Linked DNA regions of Homo sapiens. The protein of the gene in region 2 purifies or fractionates together with the protein of the main gene of each other region. This does not show direct contact. Each region holds a gene or a part of one and is shown on either strand. Other genes may lie near its edges.

Region 1 (7,741 bases), on a different chromosome or scaffold from region 2:
TATCCTCCCCACCCATACCTCTTCTCAGCCTGGTTTCTCCTGGCTTAAAACATCCCTTATCTTGCTTCTCTCCATCCTTACCCCCATCCTTGAAGGCCCAGGTTCAAATCCTGTCTCCTCTTCCATGAGGACAGCCTTGATTCCCCCAGTCCATCGATTTCATCCTCTTCTCCTGGCACTCAGGATCCCCCAAAAGGAGTACCAAGCCCTCACCACCTGGAATCCACTCTCCTGGCTACCATGCTTCCCAGGAGAAATGGTTCCAGGTGAGCCAGGAGGCTGGAACTAAGCAGCCTGTCCCTCAGGTGGCAAATGACAGCCAAGGGCTGGCAGGCCCCGCCCACGGCACACAGCCACTAAATGCCAGCGCTCCTCCTCTCACACTGAGCATCCAGTTAAATTGGGCTCCCTCTGGGATGCTGCCTCTTCTCCACAGTCAGACATCATCCTCCTCCCAGAGGAAAACACTTCTAGTGATGTGTGACCCTGGGTGGCAACTTCAGAGCAAGGCGGCAAAGAAGCAAACCAGCTCCCTGCTCCATCTCGGATTCCTGTCCCGCCTCTTCTCCCTTTCTCAAAGGCTGGTTAAATCCTAACACCTTACTGACAAGTGTTTCAGGACTGTTGTTTTCAAGTTGTTGCTTTTTAAGTATCAAAATAAACCATATACATTTTAAAATACGTATCCTCAAAAAAAAGTAACACTTTGGCCTTTTATCCAAATGTTCTATAAAAGGGGAGGCATCATTCAGGCCTTCGACCAAGACTTGCTTCCGTATTTAAAGAAGTGCAATAGTAACATAGCTTTCTCCGGCCACCCGCCAAGAAAAGTTTTTGTCGCCACAGTAAAAAGAGAACATGTTTGCTCAATATGTGGGCACTATTGAACTGCTTAAAAACTGGGCCTCTTTTACCAAGCAATTTGAGTCACCTCAGTTTTAAACGAGTCTCTGCACGTTCCCTTCATATACCATAGGTGATCACATATGTGGAGGGACGAGGGACCACAGCAATCCCAGTGCCACGGGCTTCCAATCTCGCCGGTCTGCCTGTCACTCTCCCTGGGGGCGTCCAATCTTCTCCCCCAGCCTCCGCTATCTCTAAATTGATGGCTGCCCACTCTGTGGTCCATTGTGACCTTCTTCTCTCTCCCTCTCTAGATGGTGCCCATGGGCCCCTAGTCGTGAGTGGGGTAGAGATGAAAATAAAGAATCATCACCCTGAAGCCGCTGGTGGCTACCTGAAGCTTCATGATACCATTCTCTGTATCTGCACTTGTTTGAAAATTTCCATTATAAAGAGTTAAAAAAAGACGATCCATCAGAACTTTGAAGAATAAAAGTTTTTTAAAAAAGAGAAACATTCAGTTAAAAATAGGAGTATTCATGAGAGATATTTTAAGTTCATTTGAAGGAAATAATTCCTTATGTGGTAAAGGAAAAGAACAAAAATATAATGGCTGCATCTCAAGAATAAAGTTACATAAAAGTTCCTTATAAACAAGCTTCAAAGACAACCATAAAATAATAAAGGTAAAAATATATCTCACTAGTTCCAAATGTTGACTATTTAGAAAGGATAGCATTTGTAACACTTCGACCCTTTCATTATTAGACAAATATATTTGAATCTGAAAATATCATTCGGCTTCCCAGTGAACAATCTAGAGCCAGACCTGGAGGGTTAAAAACACACATGCACATAAAACTCACCACAATTGTGTTATTCCCTGATCAAGACTCAAAAAAGAAGTACTTTGGAGAACCAGTTGGATGTTAAGTGCTTCTCAAAGAAAATAAACAATTAGAAAAATTTCTACCAGGCACTTTGGGAGGCCAAGGCAGGTGGATCACCTAAGGTTGGGAGTTCGAGACCAGCCTGACCAGCACGGAGAAACCCTGTCTCTACTAGAAATACAAAATTAGCCAGGCATGGTGGTGCATGCCTGTAATCCCAGCTACTCAGGAGACTGAGGCAGGAGAATTGCTTGAACCCAGGAGAAAGAGGTTGCAGTGAGCCAAGGTCATGCCATTGCGCTCCGGCCTGGGCAACAAGAGGGAAATTCTGTCTCAAAAAAAATTCTGAAGCACAAATAAACTGCAGCAAGTTTATGGTCCATAGAAATATCTTCCCAGAGCATTAACACTTTCATATTCATGAGTTCAATGGATTCCAATAATAAACATGTGAAATTGGCTGTGCAGGTTTCATGCGATTCTGCAGGGAGGTGGGAAACAGGAGCTAAGTGGGTTGCCATAGCTACAAAGACATTTGATGTCAGCTCTGGGACCAAAACCTACTTCAAGTTCTCTACATCAGCCAGTCCCTGACCCCCAACTCCCAGGATCTCCACTCCCTGTGACAGCTCTTGCTGCTTCTGGGGTCTTGCACCAATAGCAATCTCCACTGTTTCCCCCATCTTCAGCCTCTCCCTCTCCAAAGGCACCAGGCACATGCTCCTTGTCATGCCCATTTGTCCTGCCTTGACCCTCCCAATCCCCCTCACCTTCTAGAATCTTCGCAGTCCTTGCACCCTCCTGACTTTCTAGGGCACCCAATACTGCTGGCCACCATGTCTACCCCACCCCAAGCTCAGGAACCCCCAGGGTTCTCTTGCATGTTGGCAGCCTTTGCTCCTTGGCCCCATCCCACAAAATGGACTTGCTCCACAGTTCTGGGCCCAAGTCTATTGCTGGGTCTTCCCTTACCCCCTATTCTTGTCCCCTAGACATCACTACAGACTCCCATATCCCGTATGCTAAAAAATGCCCCAATATACCTGTGTCATGGCCCTTCTCCTAACCTCCCTTAGTTGGTTTCCAAATTCCTTTACACCCACCAGGAGTCTTTCTCTCACCCACCTCTTCCAAACAACACACATACATATTTCAATCTTGTACTATCCCTGCCCTGGTTTGAGCCCTCAGTTTCCCCTCTACTAAGACTAACTTTAATGAAGTGGCCTAACTCAACAAATGTCAAACGCCTACTTAAACCAAGCAGTGTTGAAAACAGGCAGCAAAGAACCAAGTCAGAGTTGATTGCTGTAAGGTTGATAAACACTTAGATGAAATATGAAGCACTGCACAGGGGATAAGGAAAGGCTGCTTTATGCCGGGTGATCAGAGAAAACCTCCTCTCAGAGAAGAGGTGAGGATAGTTCCAGGCAGGGGGAGCAGTCACCACAAAGGCCAGAGGCAGGAAAGCTGGGGGCCTTGTGCCTGGAGTGAAATGAGGGGGAGAAGGGAGGTAGGAGGAGGAGGGCAGATCACCAGTCCTGGTAGGTGACATTTGAACTCTGGCTTTCCTCTGAAGAAGACAGGGATTCTGACTGGAGGATTCTGAGTAGAAAAGTAACCTCAAGTCATTTCAGTTTTTAAAGGATCCCTCCAGCTTCTTTCTGAGAGAAACTGGTAGGGGGCAAATGGGAAGCAGAGAACGCAGGGACTGCAATGACCTGCCCGGGGTCAGGCTCGCCTCATTCACGCTCAGGCCCATCTTCCTCAATGCAAGCCTGGCCATAACTTGTCAGCACCCACACCCTCTCTCTCTCTCCCCTGACCACAAGAACTTTCACTGGTTCCTCACTACCTCCATAACTATTAACTGCCACATCTCTGCATGATCCCCGAGATTGCATCATGGCCTATTACACCTTTCTAAGCACCATGCACTCCAAACCCAATGGATCACCTGCTGTTTCCCCAAAAGACCTCTATGAGCCTTTCTGTTGTGTCCTGTTTTCTCAGCCTACAATCCCTTGAGCACTTCTACCTTCCTTTCTCTGCCTCTGAAATGTTATTCACATCCTTCAAGACCAAGCCCAAAGGCCACTTCCTTAAGAAGCCTTTCTTGGCTGCCTCCAACACATAATTGGCTTACACCTCTACCAAGGCAATCTTACCAGTTCCTGGCTGTCTCCACCACACTGCCCACTGAAGGCAGCAATCACGCACAGCCAAGCACAGTGCTAGGCACACACCAAGTGCTCAATCAATGCGTGTTTGGTCGGAGAACAAACTGCTCACTTCACCAAACATCTTGAGGTCTTAATGGAGAAGTATTCCAGGGCAGGTTTTCCGTGTTGGCTACTGTAATCTGGAGACCAGGGGACCCTCTGATGGAGTCTCTGGGGACTGTCTGCTCAGCACTAACAAAGGTACAAGTAGGGACCACAGTGTGGACAGATTTGAACTTAGGCCTACGAAGACTCTTGCCTTCTCTGCTAGACATCTCTAAGCAGGCCCATATTTTGTTTTAAATTTCCATAAAGTATTGGAAGTATGTTTTTCCTAAGGTCATTCTAGAAGTGTACAAAAGAAGAAATGAGCACTTAGAAGGACCCACATCAAGTTAATGTAGTTATAGTGGTGAGAGAGGGTGGAATTAGTTTTATTTTCCTTTACTTTATCTTGAATACTTTTTCTAAATAAACATTTAATGAAAGTCATTTAGAAAGAATGCCAAGTACTACCCAAGTTACATTTGCAGAATGAGTCCAAAAATGAAAAGTACCAAACAAATAAGGAGACATGAGGCCATGGAATTATGTAATACCGCTTACACGGTAAGATTACAAGAGCTGAAAATGTTTTAAGTGGCTTGTCTGAAGCAAGCAATTAAAATAATTGGTCCTGTGCTTTCACCTCTGAAATAATTATTTCACTAAACATAAAGCAGATGTTGTGAGCATCTTGGGCACTTATTGATGACTCTTACCCAAACTAAACTCTTCCACAAGCTCCATAATTGACCATAAACCAGTTCTCATCACTGCATCCTAGCTCATGTTACACAGGTGGCCAAACAACTCTGAATGGGACATTTCAATGACTGTCTTTAGAGAGGAAATGTCAAAAACAGGCAACTAACAAATAATACATCTTAAAGCTAAAGCTATATCAACAAAGTATTAAATAAAGATTTGTCTTCTAATTTTCAATAAAAGACCTACAGAACTTTTAATGAAATAGCTCATTTAAACACAAAAGATCTAGTTGCTTTAGTTATCACCCTGTTAAAGAAATAAAAAGGGGAAGAGGAAACTGCAGTCAGGCACAGTGCTAGGTATTCTAGGTGTAGCTTTATATTACTTTCCCCAGTAAATCTAACATAGGGCTTTATCTTCCCCATTTTACAAGTGAGAAAATTTATCCTGAAATAGTTCGTGTAATTTTAACTTTAGGCATTCCCATACGTAACTGAGACTCAGATTAAATAACTTGTCCGTAGTCACACAATAAGTGGTAAAAATAGAATTCAAGCCTATTTCACAAAAGACTACATGCCACACTGTATGACTGATTCCACTTACATGAAGTTCAACAGGTAAAACCCATCTATGATGACAGAAGTCACATCTATGATGATGTAAGAAAGAATAACAGTTCCTTCAGGGTGAGGGGGTGGGAACACGGACAAGACATGGGCGCAGGAACCTTCTGCAGTACTGAAAATGTTTATTTCTTAATCTGAGAGCTTACATACATGAGCTCATGCTTAATATTAACACTTCTCACACTTTACTGCATGTTATACATGAAGTTAAAAAAATCCTCATCTTATGGACTCCAAGTTTATGCTCTTAACCACTAAACCACCACATGGCACTCGGACAGAATCTAGCCACATGCCAGAATTGATTACCTTGGATTATCATTTTTTTCAAACATTCTGGTAAGCTACGTACATCCTACTCATATCAGAATGAAGACACCTGAACCCTCTGTTTTAAAATGCCACAGAATGAAAAGTAGAAAGTATCAATTTCCTGGCTACTGGGAATTTCCCCCTCTGTAGCCACATCAGAAAATGGTTTTTGTTTTTTTTAAGTTATAGATGCACAGAAAATAATGTGTAACATTCTTAAAGTTATATATGAAAATACCTAAAGCTAAAATTGCACAAGATACATGTTATGACTCTCAAAAGACATCTGAATTTTTGTTACAAAAATTAAGACAAGGCAAAAAGACAAAGCTGGTGGGCAGAGGTTGTTAATACTCACAGGGCAACACACAGAGGGCAAAAATCTCAACTCTTAAAATTTGTAACAAATAGAAAACTCAGTACAAATAACTTTTTCCAGCAGCAAAGTAATTGTGCCACATAAGCCCTAATAATAAATTCTCCATCAAGTAACAGGTTCCAGCCTGGCAAAGTCTCCTTACCAGTGAGTGATGATGAAATCATTACATCAATTCTCCCAAAACCTTACCCCACACATACATACACCTCTTATTCAAACAGTAATTGCCTCTCCAGAGAGAGGAATGTATTCATTCTGTAATTTGCAGACATATTTGGCAAGTACGTAGGAACAGCAATCCCACCTTAGAGAGTGGAGAAAAAGACAGCTGGGTCCACACCTTTTGGGTGTTTGTGCTGTTTTCTTTACTGGATGCAGCCAGGAAACATTTACCACTTCAGAGTCTAGTTTAATTCATGTTTTAACCTTCTGTACACACCAAAAATACCAAGCAACCAAATGACTTTAGTTTCCCCTGGGCACTTACATAAGAGACCAAAAGGCCTTTATGAGAATCTTTCAGTATTGGTGATGTATGTACCACCATCAGGGATGTTGCAATAGATTACACATCACCAAGTATTATCCTAGTTGCAAGATCTCAAGGTCTCAATGTTTATAAAAGTAACCATAGGCAGTTATTAATTTTTAAAGTCTCTAACAGACTTTCCAATAAAACCATCAAAAAAATACAGAAAAATACAGTCAAATACTACATCCATTAACCAAGTCAGAAAGAATGAAAAGCACTGACCCAGTATGTCAAGAGTATTAACAGCTGTGGATCAGCATCCCTAAATTAGGATTTTCATGAAACCCTAGCATTGCTAGAAAACATTTAAAGCTAAGGCCAGGCGCGGTGGCTTACGTCTGTAATCCCAGCACTTTGGGAGGCCTAGGCGGGTGGATCACCAGGTCAGGAGTTCGAGACCAGCCTGGCCAACACAGTGAAACCCTGTCTCTACTAAAGACACAAAAATTAGCCAGGCGTGGTGGTGGATGCCTGTAATCCCAGCTACTGGGGAGGCTGAGGCAGGAGAATCACTTGAATCCAAGAGGCAGCGGTTGCAGTGAGCTGAGATTGCACCACTGCACTCCAGCCTGGGCGGGAGAGTGAGACTCCATTTCAAAAAAAAAAGAAAAAAACATTTAAAGCTAAGTTTCAAAGTTTGAGAAACAGAAGATTCACCTTTTCTTTTATCCCTGCATCAGCTGAAAAAGCCCTGCATATTTCTCTTCAGAACATACCAACGATGCCTCACTAATGCAACTATTTTTTTTAAAAAAAACCACATATCTGAACAGTATAGTCAAAATCAACTATGAATTATCAGTTCTACTTTCCTATTTTTAGCACAACTTTAGTTTATCAGAAACCTAAAACATGACTTTTCTTTAAAACAAGAAAATTTTCAAAACTACAAACCTTCATATATTCAGCCCTTCACCAGAAGCCCAGAAAAAAATTCATAATTTTTGAACAACAAGCAAATCATGCTTATTTTCCTCAAAATACTACTTAGGTTTTAAGAACCTTCTGATGTGCATCTGCCAAATGTGGCTGATTTCAGTCTCAGACAGGGAAATCTAAAAGGCTACCACAGGGTTACTGTTTTTGGTAAGGGGAAGTCGATGCCAGGAGGAACTTCTCTATTGATTACAGCAATGACCACCATTTATTAAGCACTTCTTAGCTCTCCTGGTGCAGTGCTA
Region 2 (8,523 bases):
TCAGGTCCCACTCTAAGCCTAAGGACAGGAAAGAGGTAGTCACAGCAAAAGGCACACACAGGCCCATCCACCACAACAGCCAACAGCCAAGAAACCAAGCAACTCTGAATCTCTCTCGGGTGGAATCAGTTACTCCTCCTGTTTGGCCTTAGAATAAGAAGCCAGAGGGCAGACTTTGTAGCAGAAGGGATTCAAGGACTACTTTCTTTTTTTTTTTTTTTTTGAGATGGAGTCTTGCTCTGTCACCAGGCTGGAGTGCAGTGGCGCAATCTCAGCTCACTGCAACCTCCGCCTCCCTGGTTCAAGCGATTCTCCTGCCTCAGCCTCCCGAGTGGCTGGGATTACAGGTGCCCACCACCATACCCAGCTAATTTTTGTATTTTTAGTAGAGACGGGTTTCACCAGGTTGGCTAGGCTGGTCTTGAACTCCTGACCTCGAGATCCGCCCACCTCGGCCTCCCAAAGTGCTGGGATTACAGGCGTGAGCCATTGCGCCCAGCCTCAAGGACTACTTTTTGAAGAGTTTGGGAAATCAAGATGGGACTCAGGGAGAGTGGAATCACCCTTCCTAAAGATCCTGCAGATACCCAGAACAGTTGGCACAGACCTGTCTAGGGAGGAACCCTGTCCCCCATGTCCTGAGGCTGCTCCCATCCCTTGGTTTCAGGGCTCCCTGTTTTATGGAGAAGCCTGATTTTATTCATTCTCATTCAATTCAGCCAACACTTGGTGAGAGCAGCTCCAGTGTGCAAAGCCTTCTGCTAGGTCTAACTTCCTCCTGTCAGACGTGAGGTTGTAGGATTTGGAGATGGCGCTACCAGGAGCCACAGTGCAGACAGGCAGGGTGTGCGGCCAGCTGTGGGTGAGCATTCCAAATCCAGGATCAATTGGTTGAACACCTTAAGCCAGCCCAGAGCAGGTATTCTGGAGCCTTGGGAGGTCAAGGTCTATGATAAAACATTGAGGGCATCACACATTGCTCCAAAAGTAGTAGTGACATAGAAGAAAATTAACATTTGCTGCTTTTTTCTCTGTATTCAGAACTGGGCTAAGTGTTTTACATTTGGTCTTCACAATTCTGCAAGGCAGGCATTATTATTCCCATTTAAAGCTGAGGAAACTGGCTGGGCGAGGTGGTTCCCGCCTGTAATCCCAGCACTTGGGGAGGCTGAGGCGGGCGGATCACGAGGTCAGGAGTTCGAGACCAGCCTAGCCAACATGGTGAACCCCCTCTCTACTAAAAATACAAAAATTAGCTGGGCATGGTGGTGGGCACCTATAATCCCAGCCACTCGGGAGGCTGAGGGAAGAGAATCGCTTGAACCTGGGAGGCAGAGTTTGCAGTGAGACGAGATTGCTCCAGCCTAGGTGACAGAGACTGACTTGGTCTCAAAATAAATAAGTAAAAAAAATAAAATAAAATACAGCTGAGGAAACGGACACTTGGGAAGGACTCTTCAGTTTGCCAGCAAGGAAGAGGCACGACTAGGAGGGGTCTCCAATCCGCTGGCCAGAACAATTTGGATATCCAGGCCCTTGTCGAACAAAAGGCATGTTGAGGACAGAAAGTAACTTGCTAATTGCTACCTAGGGTCTTATCCAAGTCAGCAGTGATCCAAATTAAGACTTCCTGACCTGTATGTAGTCCTATCTTCTGTCCTGAGCCAGACTGTGTCCCTAAACACACTGTGTTATTGGCATTTTGGCCAATTAAGTGACCTAAATATCTGGGGTGGGCCTCATTTATGGAGATTGAAGGACCTGGGATCAGGAGAACTCTGGGCAAGAAATTGCTCCTGGGGAAAAGAGAGGAAGCTTTTGCAAATGTCTGAACAGGTTTCAGAACATGGGGCCAAAGATCACCTTGTGAGAGTGAAAATGCAAATCAACTGCGATATGCAAATCAAGCAACCCAAACTAATTAGAAAATACTGGTTGCCATGGCACAGTGGCTCACGCCTGTAATCACAGCACTCTTGGAGGCCAAGGCAGGCAAATCACAAGGTCAGGAGTTCGAGACCGGCCTGGCCAACATGGTGAAACCCGCCCCCCCCCCCCCCCCCCGCCTCTACTAAAAATACAGAAATTAGCCGGACGTGGTGGCAGGCACCTGTAATCCCAGCTACTCGGGAGGCTGAGGCAGGAAAATTGCTTGAACCCAGGAGGCGGAGGGTGCAGTGAGCTGAGATCGCACCACTGCACTCCAGTGTGGGTGACAGAGCAAGCCTCCGTCTCAAAAAAAAAAAAGAAAAGAAAGGGACACTTTTAATCACAACCCAGAATTTCTGATCAGTTCTCTCTGGATAGTTCCAGCCCCCTCTGAGAGGTAGCTGTTTCTGTTTAGAGTGAAACAAGGTGCTCTGGGCCTGACAAACAGCTCAGTTTGCCTGGGCTATTAAGCTAGAGGCTAAAAAGGGGCTTCCCTGACTCAAGCATTTGGTACTCCCTCAAAACTTCAGTCAGACTGTGGCAGTTCCTGCTTGTCGGGAGGCTGGGCAGGATGACGAAAGGTCCCTTGCATCTAACCATTTCCCCTGGACTGCCTCCCCTCCCCACAGATCCCTAGCCCCTTGAAGCCATGCGGGGTCCAACCTGTAAAGTTGTTGGAGATTCTGCAATCCCCTCTAGGGCAGCAGTCTTTGAAGCTGCAGTACCACGTGGTCAGGAGGTCCAGGTACCGCTGGCCCAACAGAGGAAGGCGCCAGCCTGGAAAAGGAGGAGCTGTGAGACCGAGAGGAGACCATCCGGTGCTCTACAGTGATGCGGCAACCTTGCCACACAACTTGTCAGGGACAGAGGGACACCCAGAACTCAGATTCTAACTCCCAGCCCCGACTCGGCCCACTGTCGGTCCTCAAGCCCTGCGTCCAAAAGCAGCAAGGGAGACGGCAGTCACCAGGCATGTCCACAGCGGACGTTCCCTAGAGCTGTCAAGAGCAACACCTTCGAATAACGCCAGGGTGGGCTGGGAGATGGCACAGGCGGTGCGAGAGAATCTGGAAAGCGCAGGGATCAGGGGAGGCGGGGGACGGGAAGCCGGGCGCCAGGGGGGTGCGCAGGGGACGCGGGTGGGGCAAGGGCGGTGATGGGGCTCCCTGCTCCGCGGAGGCTGCCCCCGCCCACAGCCGGTACCGGCGGCTGAGCAGAGCAGGACTGCGGGCCCAGATGTCGCCCCGGACAGGAGCGAGGCGACCACAGCCGCGCCCGGATCGCACTCTGCTCCGCAGCGAACGGCGGACCGTGGGGACGGGGTCTTACCCAGGGGCCCCGTGGCTGCCTCCTCGTCCTCGTCACAGTCGTCGGGCCACACCTGGCAGCTGAAGAGCGTCCAGTACCGCTTGGAGAGGGCACCCGCCGCCCTGAGCTGCTCCTGCAGGCGCTGGAAGCCCGGCCAGGCCCAGGCCGAGCCCGGCTCGTCGGTTCCCTCCCACGGCCTGGAGGCGCCGCGGGGCTCAGGCGCGCCCGGGAGCAGCAGCAGGAAAAAGAGCCAAAGCTGGCGCCACGGACCGCGAAGCATGGCCGGCCCCGAGCTGCGGGACCATCCGGCTGCCGGCCTAGCCAGGCTCCCTTAAGCCCGGGGCGGTCAGGCGGGGACCGCACTTCCTAGGCGGGCTTGAACCCGGGATTGGTGTTGCTGTGGCGACCGGCGGGCCGGGCTGAGTGCGCACTGGCAGCCTCCGTACACGTGACCCAGGCGGGAACCCGAAACCCTGTCTGGGGTCCTGAGAGGCAGTCCCGAGACTGACTTCAGGCCAGGTGCAACTAGCCGGCTTCCAGGAAGCAGTTTATTCTGGGTCGTGATTGTGGTTGCAAAGAAGGTGAACTCAGGCTTTGAAATGGCCACTGTCAATCACTCCGCTAGGACTTTCGGACGGCTCTGGTGGCCCATCAGAGGCCTACCGAATAAGGACACTCCTGCTTTGCCTCGCGTTTGCAGATCAACTTCCCGCCAACCTGTTAGAGGAAGCCGGAAAACCGTCTCAGTCAGGAGCGTTAGGCAGGCCAGGGGAGTCAGCTGAGTGGAGAAGAGGCCCTGGAAAGAAGGGCACAGCTAGGTGCCTGTCTGGCCAAGGTTGCCCTGGCTCCTCCGCAGAGGGAAATGAAACCGCAGCAAAACACCAGCAGGTTTCCACAGTGGGAGTCCACGAAAAGCAAGAGGAAGCTGATTGACGGGCTCCAGTCTGGAGGTGTTTGGAGTTTGGAAACCCCCCGAGTCATGGGTAAATCATGAGGCGTCATGTCAATGTAATTATATCTCATAAAAATCCGAAGTACTGTGTGCACTTTCTTGACTAGGTTTGCAACTTTCAAGTGCTGGGACTGAGCAGCCCATCCGACACCATTGGCAAAAGACTACAGGGCCTCTTTCCCTCAGCGCTCTCTTCTCCATAGCGAGGAGCATGGAACAAGGCTGTTAGATTTCAGAAGAGCTTAATGCATTGTTTAAAATCACCTGGCTTACTTCAGCCAAGCCAAAAAGCCGTCTTGTCTTAGGAGAAAACTGCTGTCTAGAGAGATCAGAGGACTTGGCTAATGTCATATGTTTAGTGGCTTTGAGGTTGGGCCCTCCAGACAGTAAGGTGAATACTAGCACCGTGTCTCACAAATGTCACAGGCAACTTGATTCATCTGTTCACCCCAGTCTCTTAGATCACACCGTGCCAGGTCTGCTCCATTCTCAGCAGCTCACCAAATTTGTGCCTTTCATTCGAACAGCTACAGAAACTAGATAAAGCACCTTTGCTAGGACACGAGGTTGAGTTGAAAAGTAAAATGTTTATAGTGTCTCAGCCATTCAGTGTGATGTCAAAAACTTTTCATAGAGTAGCAGCCATGGCACCAGCCCAGCACTGTGTACATCGAGCTTGCGGAGTCCACCGGAGACAGTTAACAGCACATACACCACAGTGCTTATTGGAAAACCAAAAAAAATTAGGCAGGGTGTGGTGGCTCACGCCTGTAATCCTAGCACTTTAGAAGGCCGAGGCGGGCGGATCACCTGAGATCAGGAGTTCGAGACCAGCCTGGCCAACATGGTGAAACCCAGTCTCTACTAAAAATCCAAAAATTAGCTGAGTGTGATGGTGCGCATCTGTAATCCCAGCTACTCAGGAGGCTGAGGCAGGAGAATGGCTTGAACCCAGGGGGCAGAGGTTGCAGTGAGCCAAGATGGTACCACTGCACTCCAGCCTGGGTGACAGAGCAGGGCTCCATCTCAAAAAAAAAAAAAAAAGAAAAAAGAGAAAAGAAAAAAAATTAACTCACTCAACAAATGTCGTTTGAGTCTGAATGGCAGTCTAATATAGTGATTACCATTTTCTATTTGTGCAACCATGGATGTTACTGAACCGTCCCATGCCTGTTTCCTCACCTATAAAAAGGGATAATAAAATAGTCCCCTCATAGGGCTGCTGTGAAGATTAAATGAGCTCATTCAATGAGCACATCATCAACACTCAATACGTGGCCAGTTTTATTTTTGTATCTACCCAGCCATGGAGGAGGCTCTGGGTGGTCTACACAGGAGGCAAGGATGGCTTTAGTTAATACTGGTGGTTTATAAGTGAATTTATGGTGAAAAAATTAATAGTAACAATAGTTTATTAAAACAATCCAAGTTTTAAGATGTTGTGGAAAGAATTATCTGTACTTGGAACTTTTATGTAGGGCTACCTGCTCATTTCTGAGATGTTCTGACTTGGATTTAGCATCCCATTGTAAATAAAGTAGGTTAGCTGGGAAGTTCTTCGACAACCAACTTGATTTCAAGACATTTTTATTATTTATTTATTTATTTATTTATTTATTTAGAGACGGAGTCTTGCTCTGTCGCCCAGGCTGGAGTGCAGTGGTGCAATCTCGGCTCACTGCAACCTCCGCCTCCCCGGTTCAAGCGATTCTTCCCCCTCAGCCTCCCAAGTAGCTGGGATTACAGGCGTTCACCACCACGCCCCCGCTTTTTTTTTTTTTTTGTATTTTTAGTAGAGACGGGGTTTCGCCATGTTGGCCAGGCTGGTCTCGAACTCCTGGCCTCAGGTGATCTGCCTGCCTGCCTTAGCCTCCCAAAGTGTTGGGATTACAGGCGTGAGCCACTGCGCCTGGCCGTTTTTTTCCAAAAAAAAAAAAAAAAGAGGTAAACACTTTTTCACCAAAGAGTCAGTCCCGTGTAGAAACAATAAATCCAAACACCAGTTTCTAGATACGTCTCTTGAGTATTTCAATAAATACTCCTTTCCGTCTCAGGCCTTGGAGGCTGTGCTCGTTTTAAAGTTCTGGAAGCAGTATCTCATGGATGACGGGGACATCTAGAGGCTGCTGGGAAAACTACAGACAACTATGATTCTTTAGCAAGCATTACGGTGCTACTCAAGGGCGGTTCCAGAACCCCACCACTGGCATCACCCAGGAGCTTGTTAGAAATGCAGAATCTCAGGCCCCAGACATACTGAATCAAAACCTGCACTTTAAGAAGGTCTTTCTGTGCAGGGAGCCATGGCTCATGCCTGTAATCCCAGCACTTTGGGAGGCTGAGGCAGGAGGGTGGCTTGAAGCCAGAGTTTCAGACCAGCCTGGGCAATAAGGCTAGACCCCTTGTCTCTACCAAAAATAAAAATAAAAAATAAGCTGCGTGTGGTGGTGCGCGCCTATAATCCTAGCTACTTGAGAGGCTGAGGGAGGAGGATCACTTGAGCTCAGGAGTTCGAGGCTGCCAATGAGCGATGATTGTGCCATTGTACTCCAGCCTGCGTCAAAGCAAGACTGTCAATCCAAAAAAAAAAAAAAAAGCCTAAGGCAAAATTGGCACACAACACCTTTATTGATGTCATCTGAGTATGACCTAGCTTTACAACAGACATCTTCCCAACCCCACTGAAGGCAATCAGAACCATCTGCCTTGGAAACACTGGGTCAAAAGCAAGTCTCGGCCTGGGACGGTGGCTCACGCCTGTAATCCCAGCACTTTGGGAGGCCAAGGCAGGTGGATCACTTGAGGTCAAGTGTTTGAGACCAATCAGCCCGGCCAATATGGAGAAACCCCGTCTCTACTAAAAATACAAAAATTAGCCGGGCGTGGTGGCATGCGCCTGTAGTCCTGGCTACTCGGGAGGCTGAGGCAGGCGAATTGCTTGAACCTGGGAAGCGGAGGTTGCAGTGAGCTAAGATCGCGCCATTGCACTCCAGCCTGGGCACTGCAGTGAGATTTGGTCTCAAAAACAAAACAAACGCAAGTCTCCATATTTAAATAACCCTGCATGAGAAACATTACAGGAATGTTTCCCAGCTCATCTATGTTCCTTTAACATCTACACAGCACTTGAGGTGGACTGAGAATGTCCTCAAGAGACAGGGCACACAAACATTTCCTAGAACAATGAGAAACCCCTGAAGCGATATTTCTGGTGACCCAGATACTGAAAATACAGGCCCAGAAGGCCCTGTATCCACTAAGCAAATAGTTCTGCATTTCCGGAGTCAGGGGTTCTATACACACCTCTCGTCAAGCCTGGATCAATCTCCACTTTTTCAATGTAGGTACTGCCTAACCCAATCCCTCCCAATCCCCACCTCCATGATCCTCTCCCGTTTCTTATTCTCACTGCAATTAATTTATATAATTCCTGAGGGACTTGGTGCCTCACAAGCAGTTTTTTTTTTTTTTTTTCTGCCAGGTCTAGACTGCAGGCTCTTTGAGGGAAAAGACAGTCACTATCATCTCAATGGTATACCACAGCTTGCAGCACAATGGCCCACAGATCTACTGATGACAGACCAAATATCTCACAAATTGTGATTTAATACCATTATTCCTTGGGGCTTATACTGCAACTTACCTTACAAAACCCTACCCATGGAAATCCAGTGGCTATGACCATTCCTATCTATTTTACAAAATGACGACTGCTAAAAATCAGTCTAATAAGCAAACATACTAGGTAAAATTACCCAGTAACAGAGCCCCGCCCTCCCTACTCCCAGCTACCTTTTTCAAACTCTAATACCAGTCGTTCTGATATGCTTGAGAAGCAAATGAATCCTGAACTCTAGCCTGGAAAAGAATTTGTATGTGGTGAGTCAGTGAGATACACAGACCAGGCTCTACTAGCCTCCCACATGTATTCATGTACAAATGACAAAAACTAGCACAAATATGCTGCAAATAAAATAGTTTTGTTTTGTTTTTTGAGACAGAGTTTCGCTCGTTGCCCAGGCTGGAGTGCAATGGCACGATCTCGGCTCATTGCAACCTCCGCCTGCTGGGTTCAAGCAATTTTCCTGCCTCAGCCTCCGAGTAGCCGGGATTACAGGCGCCTGCCACCACACCCAGCTATTTTTTTTTTTTCTTTTTTTGAGACTGAGTTTCACTCTTGTTGCCCAGGCTGGAGTGCAATGGCACAATCCCAGCTCTCCGCCTCCCGGGTTCAAGCGATTCTCCTGCCTCAGCCTCCCCAGAGTAGCTGGGATTACAGGCATGCACCAAGCTGGCTAATTTTGTATTTTTAGTAGAGAAGGGGTTTCACCATG
Region 3 (7,741 bases), about 120 Mb from region 2:
TACGAAAAAACAATTTAAAAAACTACAACTTAAAAATATATATAGTAAAATAACTATTTACATAGCATTTACATTGAATTACAAGTAATCTAGAGATGATTTAAAGTATATGAGAGGATGTGCATAGTTACATGCAAACACCATGCTTTTATTTTTATTTTTATTTTTTTTTGAGATGTAGTCTCACTCTGTCGCCCAGGCTGGAGTGCAGTGGCGCAATCTCGGCTCACAGCAAGCTCTGCCTCCTGGGTTCACGCCATTCTCCTGCCTCAGCCTCCCAAGTAGCTGAGACTACAGGCGCCCGCCACAACGCCAGGCTAATTTTTTTGTATTTTTAGTAGAGACAGGGTTTCACCACGTTAGCCAGGATGGTCTCAATCTCCTGACTTCGTGATCCACCCACCTTGGCCTCCCAAAGTGCTGAGATTACAGGCATGAGCCACGGCGCCCGGCCAATACCATGCCATTTTTTATCAAGGACTTGAGCATACTCAGATTTTGGTATCCACAAGAAGTCCTGTATACCAAGGGACAGCTGAATTTGGGAGTCATTCAGTTACTACGAAAGGAAGGGTCAGTGGCTGGGTTTTCTCTCTGTAAAACCAATAAATATATTTTCAAAAATTTTATTAGCCAAAAGTTGCCAAGCCCTTCTAACTCTCCATACCCATCATTTGAGAGATGTAGTATTCCTTAATTTAAATATTCATATATAAGAATATCCCCTAAAAACGAGAAAACATAAGACACTAAAAATTCGTACCCATATTTCATAGTAAAATGTAAAAACATCTCTGGATTTGCTGCTTTACAGTAGTATTAAAATATCTTCACCAGAGGCTATGATCAATTCAAGTTATTGTCTCAGACTTACCTCCTGCAATTTAGACTGTATCCACTGGCACAAAAGTGCCAAGCTATCTCGAGGACAAATGGCCCAAATCATTGTGAGGAAAATCATACCTAGGAAATCCAACAAATGAACCATGCCAGCCTTTTCTGCCTAAGAATAATCAAAATAATAAAAACTACATTTTATACATTGAGACAGTATATGCTTACATTTTCTAGTTCATCATGTGTTACAATTACCTGACCTTCTCCACCTAAGACTGAGAGTTCTCTTTTTCTTCTTTTGCTTATTCTTTCCGGGTCTGTTTTTCCCTTCCTTGGTTTATCTACTTATATACCTATTCATTCATTTAACTAGTATCTACTAAGCCACTTACTATTAGTCAGAGGATATAAACCTACAATTTCTTATATTAACAGGCATAATAATCTTGTGAAATAGCTACAATTATCCCTACATTTATAGATAATGAAACTGAGATAGAGAGAGGTTAAGAGTTGCCCAGATTTGCACAGCTATTACTAAAAGGACCAGAAATCAAACCCGGTCAGTTTTAGTTTTTAATATAGTTGCATCATTTTAAAAAATCAAGTAAATGTTTTATTTTACTAATATTTTTGGATAAAGACTAAACACTACCTAACATATGAAGCACTTAAAACAAGAAAAAATTCAGAAAAAGACTGGAAGTTTATTTTAAATAAAAGTATTCTGATCTTCAAGACCTAATATATGAAATATTATTCATTTATACAAGTTTGTAAATTTGTAAGTCTAGTATTTATCATGAAAGAATCAGGTTCTATGAATTTTTGTATTTACTTATATCAGTTACCAAAAAAGATTTTTCATAAAATAGTTGTTTTGAGTAGTAATATCTAAGTTTAATGAACTAGATTGTTCATGGTTTGCCATTAAAGGTGATTAGTAAATGTTAATGTTGTAATGCTGAAACTGATAAAATAGCAGTCATTACTTGAATGTATGAAAAATGACTGAAAACTAAAAACTGACTTAGAATATTGTCCCTTAACAAATATTGTACCCTCACAAAACATACTTTACCTCCTTATATTTGCCTCATTACTTTGCCTCAAAACACAAATGTGTGTTTTGAAAAACAATTATGGATTTATCTTTTTTTTTTTGAGACAGAGTCTTGCCCTGTTGCCCAAGCTGGAGTGCAGTGGCGAGGTCTCGACTCACTGCAACCTCCGCCTCCAGGTTCAAATGTTTCTCCTGCCTCAGCCTCCCGAGTACCTGTGATTACAGGTACCCACCACCATGCTCAGCTATTTTTTGTATTTTTAGCAGAGATGGAGTTTCACCATGTTGGCCAGGCTGGTCTTGAACTCCTGACCTCATGATCCACCCACCTCAGCCTCCCAAAGTGCTGGGATTACAGGGGTGAGCCACTGTGCCCAGCCCAATTATGAAATTATTTTAACATGAAAAAGTGAAACTCAAAATAAGGAAGTTGTTATAGAAGAGAAAGCCCTTGTTATTAAAGAATATAATTGCTATTATACAGTCTTAGAAAACTGGAAATACACACACAAAAACCTGTATTTGTAGAATAAAGAAAACATAAACGCCTAGATAAAATCAAAACTGAGACTCCCAAAAGAGAAAATATTGTGCTGACAATGTTTAAGATCTCTGCAAAAACATATTAATAACTATGTTCTATTTTTAAGGCTGCTGTTTGCTTTTTACACCTCATCTACTACTGTTCTTGCACTGATAGAGATGACAATACACTGAATATAAGGCACTGAACTAGATGCCTAAAAAACAAATGTACTGAATAGTAACACCTTTCAAATGCTAAAATGGCCAAAACTGATTTTGCAGTTGTGAAGCCATTACTTGAAAGATATTAGAGTGCATATAATAACACTGCTTAGACGTATTCTTGTGTATATTTGTTTAAGAAAAAAAGATTTTTTTTCTTACTTTTTTGTTTGAGACAGTGTCTCACTCTGTCACCCAGGCTAGAGTGCAGTGGTGCGATCATGGCTCACTGTAGCCTTGATCTCCCAGGCTCAAGCAATCCTCCTGCCTCAGGCTCCAGAACAGCTGGAACTACAGGTGTGAGCCACCATGCTCAGCTAATTTTTAAAATTTTTCTGTACAGACTGAGTCTATGTTGCCGAGGCCAGTCTCAAACTCCTGGGCTCAAGCAATACTCCTGCCTCAGCCTCTCAAAGTGCTGGGATTACAGGTATAAGCCACTGCACCCAGTCAAGAAAAATGTTTTTAAAATCTTCCTGTAACTCAAAAGAAATCAAGGAGATAATTACTTTCAGTGTTTCAGAAAAACAATTTAGCCCATCTCATCTTATTAATAGTCTAAGGAACAGGTAGAATTTGAGATTACTCTTAGAAGGATTAGAATCATTATCATTTCCATTTGAAGTTAATGTTACTTGTATTTCTGATTTAGCATTTCAGTCACTTCACTATGTACCTTTGCGTTTACAATTTAAAAAATACTTTCTCTAATGTAGACAAAAGAGCCATTTATATTTTTAAATGAATAACAATTTAAAAAATGTGTGAAACAGATGTGTTATTTTTCCTGGACTTATATCAAGATGAACAGACATGTATTCACAGGAGCATACATCAACTTGAATTCTATGATCTATAAGAAAAGCGCTGCTAAAAACCAGGTAACTGTAGTGAAAGGAAGAAACACTGGACTAACATACAGAAGACCCACGTTAAAGTCCCAGTTCGGTTACTTTGTCAGGTTAGTCATGTTACTGTTTTTCTAAACATTAGTTTTCTCTTATATAAAATAGTAATAATAAATACATACCTCATTGGGTATTAAAATTATGAATGGGAAGCCACATATACTAAAAAGCTCAGTAAACTGTAAAATGGCAAGGTATTGTTATTACTCTGTATTAATTACACATGACACATCATTCTAGACATTTTCAAAGATGCTCCAAGCTATCCTCTGAGAATGAATAAAAAAGAAAGATGATTTACCCACTTAAATAGTAATATCACTTCCCTACAATTAATTTTCTGACTAGATTACAAGTATATTAATAATTATAGAAAGTTTAAAATTTAATTTGAAATAATTAGGGGTTGAGAATAATTACGTTTTAGCAAAAGAGACAGGTGATAAAAATAGTATTTAAGAAAAATATTATTCAGTATCAAATACTAAAGACCATAAAAATTCTCAAAATTAGCCAATCACGTTTTTTTCAGGTAGCAGATTAAGGCAATTACCCAAAACTAAAAGTCTATCATTTTTAAAAAACCTGAAAAAAATCAGTTCTTTAAAAGATTTAACTTGTTAACTTCAAAGCAGTTTTTCCAAACCTGAACATTCATTTTAGGTACTTACAGCATGCCCAAGTACTGCATGTGCTATTTCATGGCCCAGAAGGAAAGAAAGTTGATGAATATCGGTTACACTATTTAAAAATCCAGTGAAAACAAACATTTGTCCATTCTGCACCACAAAGAAAATAATGTAAGCAATTAGAACATCATAAAAAATAAGGACAATAAATTTAACAATTACAATGCGTTTGAGAACATTTACTTACTGGAAGCACGAAGGCATTAATAATTGGGGAATCAACCACATGAATAACCCAATTGATCTGAGAGATCCCTGGAACATCTTTATTGCATTCAATTAGATGACAAAGCACTTCTTTAACAGCCAGGTATCGGGCATCTTTCTCAGTTAGCATATCATTTTTAAATTCTTCCATCCACTGAAAGATTAAAAATTACTTCTTATTTTAAAAGAGCACTACAAAATGCTTACTCTGCTTCATGGAAAGTTATATGGCTACTTATTATTGAACATTTTAAGTTTTAATTATATAAAAATCTGCATATATTAAGCACTGAAATTTCTCAAATCTGAATTATTCATGCAAAGACAATGTGGTTTCTTACAAAGGAATAAATTCTAATACTAAGTTTTTTTATGAATAGATTGACATCAAAATTTCATTCTTTTCGATTAAACTACAAACGAATACTTAAGTATTATTTCTACTTTCCTAAACATTTTAGAAAACACTGCCTAGGCCAGGGCAAGATGGCTCACGCCTGTAATCCCAGAACTAGGGGAGGCCAAGGCAGGAGGATCACCTCAGCTCAGAAGTTCAAGACCAGCCTGGGCAACATGGTGAAACCCCGTCTCTACCGAAAACACAAAAAATTAGCCAGGCGTGGTGGCATGCACCTGTGTTCCCAGCTACATGGGAGGCTGAAGTGGGAGGATCGCTTGAGTCTAGGAGGTGGAGGTTGCAGTGAGCTGAGATCTCGCCACTGCACTCCAACACCAACCTGGGTGACAGAGGGAGATCCCATCTCAAAAAGAAAAGAAAAGGAGAGCCTGGAGAACTTAAGATTTCATCTAAGTAAAATACAAAAGAAAATTAAATTCACAATGCATTGAACAGAAAAACACCCTATACCTAATAAGAAAGTTAAACTACCAAAATAGACATTTCATTAATTTTAAGGTGTTTTACTCACAGATTGAAAGGAAATTACTGAATTCTCAGAACTAATGAGCATTATCACTGTCTCTAAAAGATGCTGATTAAGACTAGCCACCACAGAAGATACTTTTTCTGAAGTTATATTCATGAGAGCTCTTTCAAGTGTACTGAGAAAATTAAAAATGTTCTGAAATATTACTTTAACTTTCATAAAGTGTATGCTTTTTTTCACTTAAGAATCAACAAGCGGCTGGGCATGGTGGCTCATGCCTGTAATCCCAGCACTTTAGGAGGTGGGCAGATCACGAGGTCAGGAGATCAAGACCATCCTGGCCAACACGGATGAAACCCCATCTCTACTAAAAATACAAAAATTGGCCAGGCGTGGTGGCGCACGCCTGTAGTCCCAGCTACTCGGGAGGCTGAGGCAGGAGAATAATTTGAACCTGTAAGGTGGAGGTTGCAGTGAGCCAAGATGGCACCACTGCAGTACAGCCTGGGTGACAGAGCAAGTCTCTGTCTCAAAAAAAAAAAAAAAAAAAAGATTCAGCCATGCCAAAGCTGTCAAGTGAGGCTACTGGACATGAATTCGAAAAATATTAATTGAGCCACAGGGCACATAACATGTGTATGTGCTATGAACTGGAGAGAAAATGACCTCTGTCCCTAAGAAACTCACTAGGGTACAAAATGTTTAACTACCTGAGTTACTATACTTTCCAAAGAGGTAAGACTTCTAAATTATAACTTAAATTTGGATTCAAAAAATATAATAAATTGCTAAAACTGATGTTTGGGAAAAAAATCTTATATTACTTGATTTTCAAGGTATAAGAATTCTGACTATAAATCTATTTATTCAATAAATATATACTAAGCTCTACTCTTACATACTGTGTTAGTATTTAAAACCATAAACAAAACAGGTAAGATCCCTGCCCCCATGAAGCTTAGTCTAACAAGAAAGACAATCAAAAAAATAATTATGCAAATAATTATGTTACTCTCATGAGTGCTTTGAAGGAAAAGTACAGTATGCAGAGAAAAAAAGCCTAGGAGACCTAACCCCAGTAAAGCCAAGCAATGGGCGCAACTACAAATGAGCTGGTTCATAATTCAGTCGGTATGAAGGATACCTCCTAGGGCCTGATCCAGTCACCCTGCCTAACCCAGTCTGGATAATCAAGGAAGGTTTTCCTGAGAAAAGTGACATTTAAGGTGAAATGTGCTGAGCAGGAGTTAGCTGGGTGAATGCTAGGAAAAGCAATGTAGGCAGTAGGAATACTAAGTGTGAAAGGTCTGAGGCCTTCGGGAAAAAAAAATGCTAATTTCATATCAAAGACTAAAATTAAAAAACAACATATCTTTCACATTTAAGATACTTTCCTACTTTGAGTGTTATATTAAGCAGTCTAATTAAAAACAACTCTTACTACTTACTGCTTCATATTCCAGTTCCGATAAAAGTCTGAACTGTTCTTTCCCCAATAATAGTAGCTTGCTCCTTCCTGTGATTGGACTTACTTCCAGGTGAGTAAAATAAAACACCACAAAGAGCAATCCAAAACTACTCAAACCAAGGAATAGCTTCCATTTATTCTTCCTTATATTTTCTTTAACTACTTCCTTCTTGTTAGGAGGAAGTGCCTGCCACCATTTCCTTATGCCCCTAAAGCAAAAAGAAAAATTCAAAGTTCTGAAAATCATTCCAGCACATATCACTAAAGCTCAAATGCATACACTAGAATTTTACGTCCTCAAATACCTGAATTTGTATGATGTATTTCGCTGAATACATCGCTTTTCCAATTAATAAAATTCTTAGCTAAATGATGAAAAAATAATCAATGATGTAAAGTTACAGTTAAAAAATTCTAATACTCATCGAAATTTTCTTCTTCAGCTATTTTAAGGATAAACACTAAATGAGATGCTAGTTTACTATAACTACCACTGGTTAATATTTATTACTATCTAGTACATGCAAAATTCTCTCTCTCTCTCTCTCTCTCTGTATATATATATATACCATCTCATTTAATCTTCATAATAACCCTGTTACAGAAGATAAAATTGTTAGGTAACTTGTCCATGGCCACTGAGGTAATAAAAGGAAAACCAAGCAATGAAGGCAATGACATTCCAGAGTCTGACCACTTAGCCACTTAATAGGGATAAATGCCTAAATAATTATGTAAGAGGTTACAGTACAATAAATCTATACCTGGAACCACTACTTTTCCCACTGCTCCTCAGACCTCCAACACAATTTGCCAGTGATTCCACAAGGTACAAGGGAAACTGCCTCAGCATTCATTTTGGAAATAAATAGTGCTCAGTAGCAGAAACTCCACTATCCTCTTTACAACGTGAAAAAGGAGAGATAACAAGATCC

The links. Proteins that work in one complex are often made in the same cells at the same time.
Region 1: the proteins of TOR3A (region 2) and B3GNT2 purify together in Homo sapiens (affinity purification with mass spectrometry; 2 studies listed by BioGRID and IntAct, with this or other methods). This does not show direct contact.
Region 3: the proteins of TOR3A (region 2) and OMA1 purify together in Homo sapiens (affinity purification with mass spectrometry; 3 studies listed by BioGRID and IntAct, with this or other methods). This does not show direct contact.

What each region holds. Positions count from the first base shown.
Region 1 is NC_000002.12:62,198,374-62,206,114, reverse strand, and holds part of B3GNT2 (N-acetyllactosaminide beta-1,3-N-acetylglucosaminyltransferase 2), read right to left. Parts: intron 290-7,741; exon of another isoform or gene 198-289; intron 1-197. UniProt on the Homo sapiens protein: Beta-1,3-N-acetylglucosaminyltransferase involved in the synthesis of poly-N-acetyllactosamine. Catalyzes the initiation and elongation of poly-N-acetyllactosamine chains. Shows a marked preference for Gal(beta1-4)Glc(NAc)-based acceptors.
Region 2 is NC_000001.11:179,077,123-179,085,645, reverse strand, and holds the start of TOR3A (torsin-3A precursor), read right to left. Parts: upstream 3,577-8,523; 5' UTR 3,518-3,576; coding exon 3,259-3,517; intron 2,707-3,258; coding exon 2,593-2,706; intron 19-2,592; coding exon 1-18.
Region 3 is NC_000001.11:58,529,727-58,537,467, forward strand, and holds part of OMA1 (metalloendopeptidase OMA1, mitochondrial precursor), read right to left. Parts: intron 7,016-7,741; coding exon 6,787-7,015; intron 4,606-6,786; coding exon 4,432-4,605; intron 4,335-4,431; coding exon 4,227-4,334; intron 1,004-4,226; coding exon 875-1,003; intron 1-874. UniProt on the Homo sapiens protein: Metalloprotease that is part of the quality control system in the inner membrane of mitochondria. Activated in response to various mitochondrial stress, leading to the proteolytic cleavage of target proteins, such as OPA1, UQCC3 and DELE1.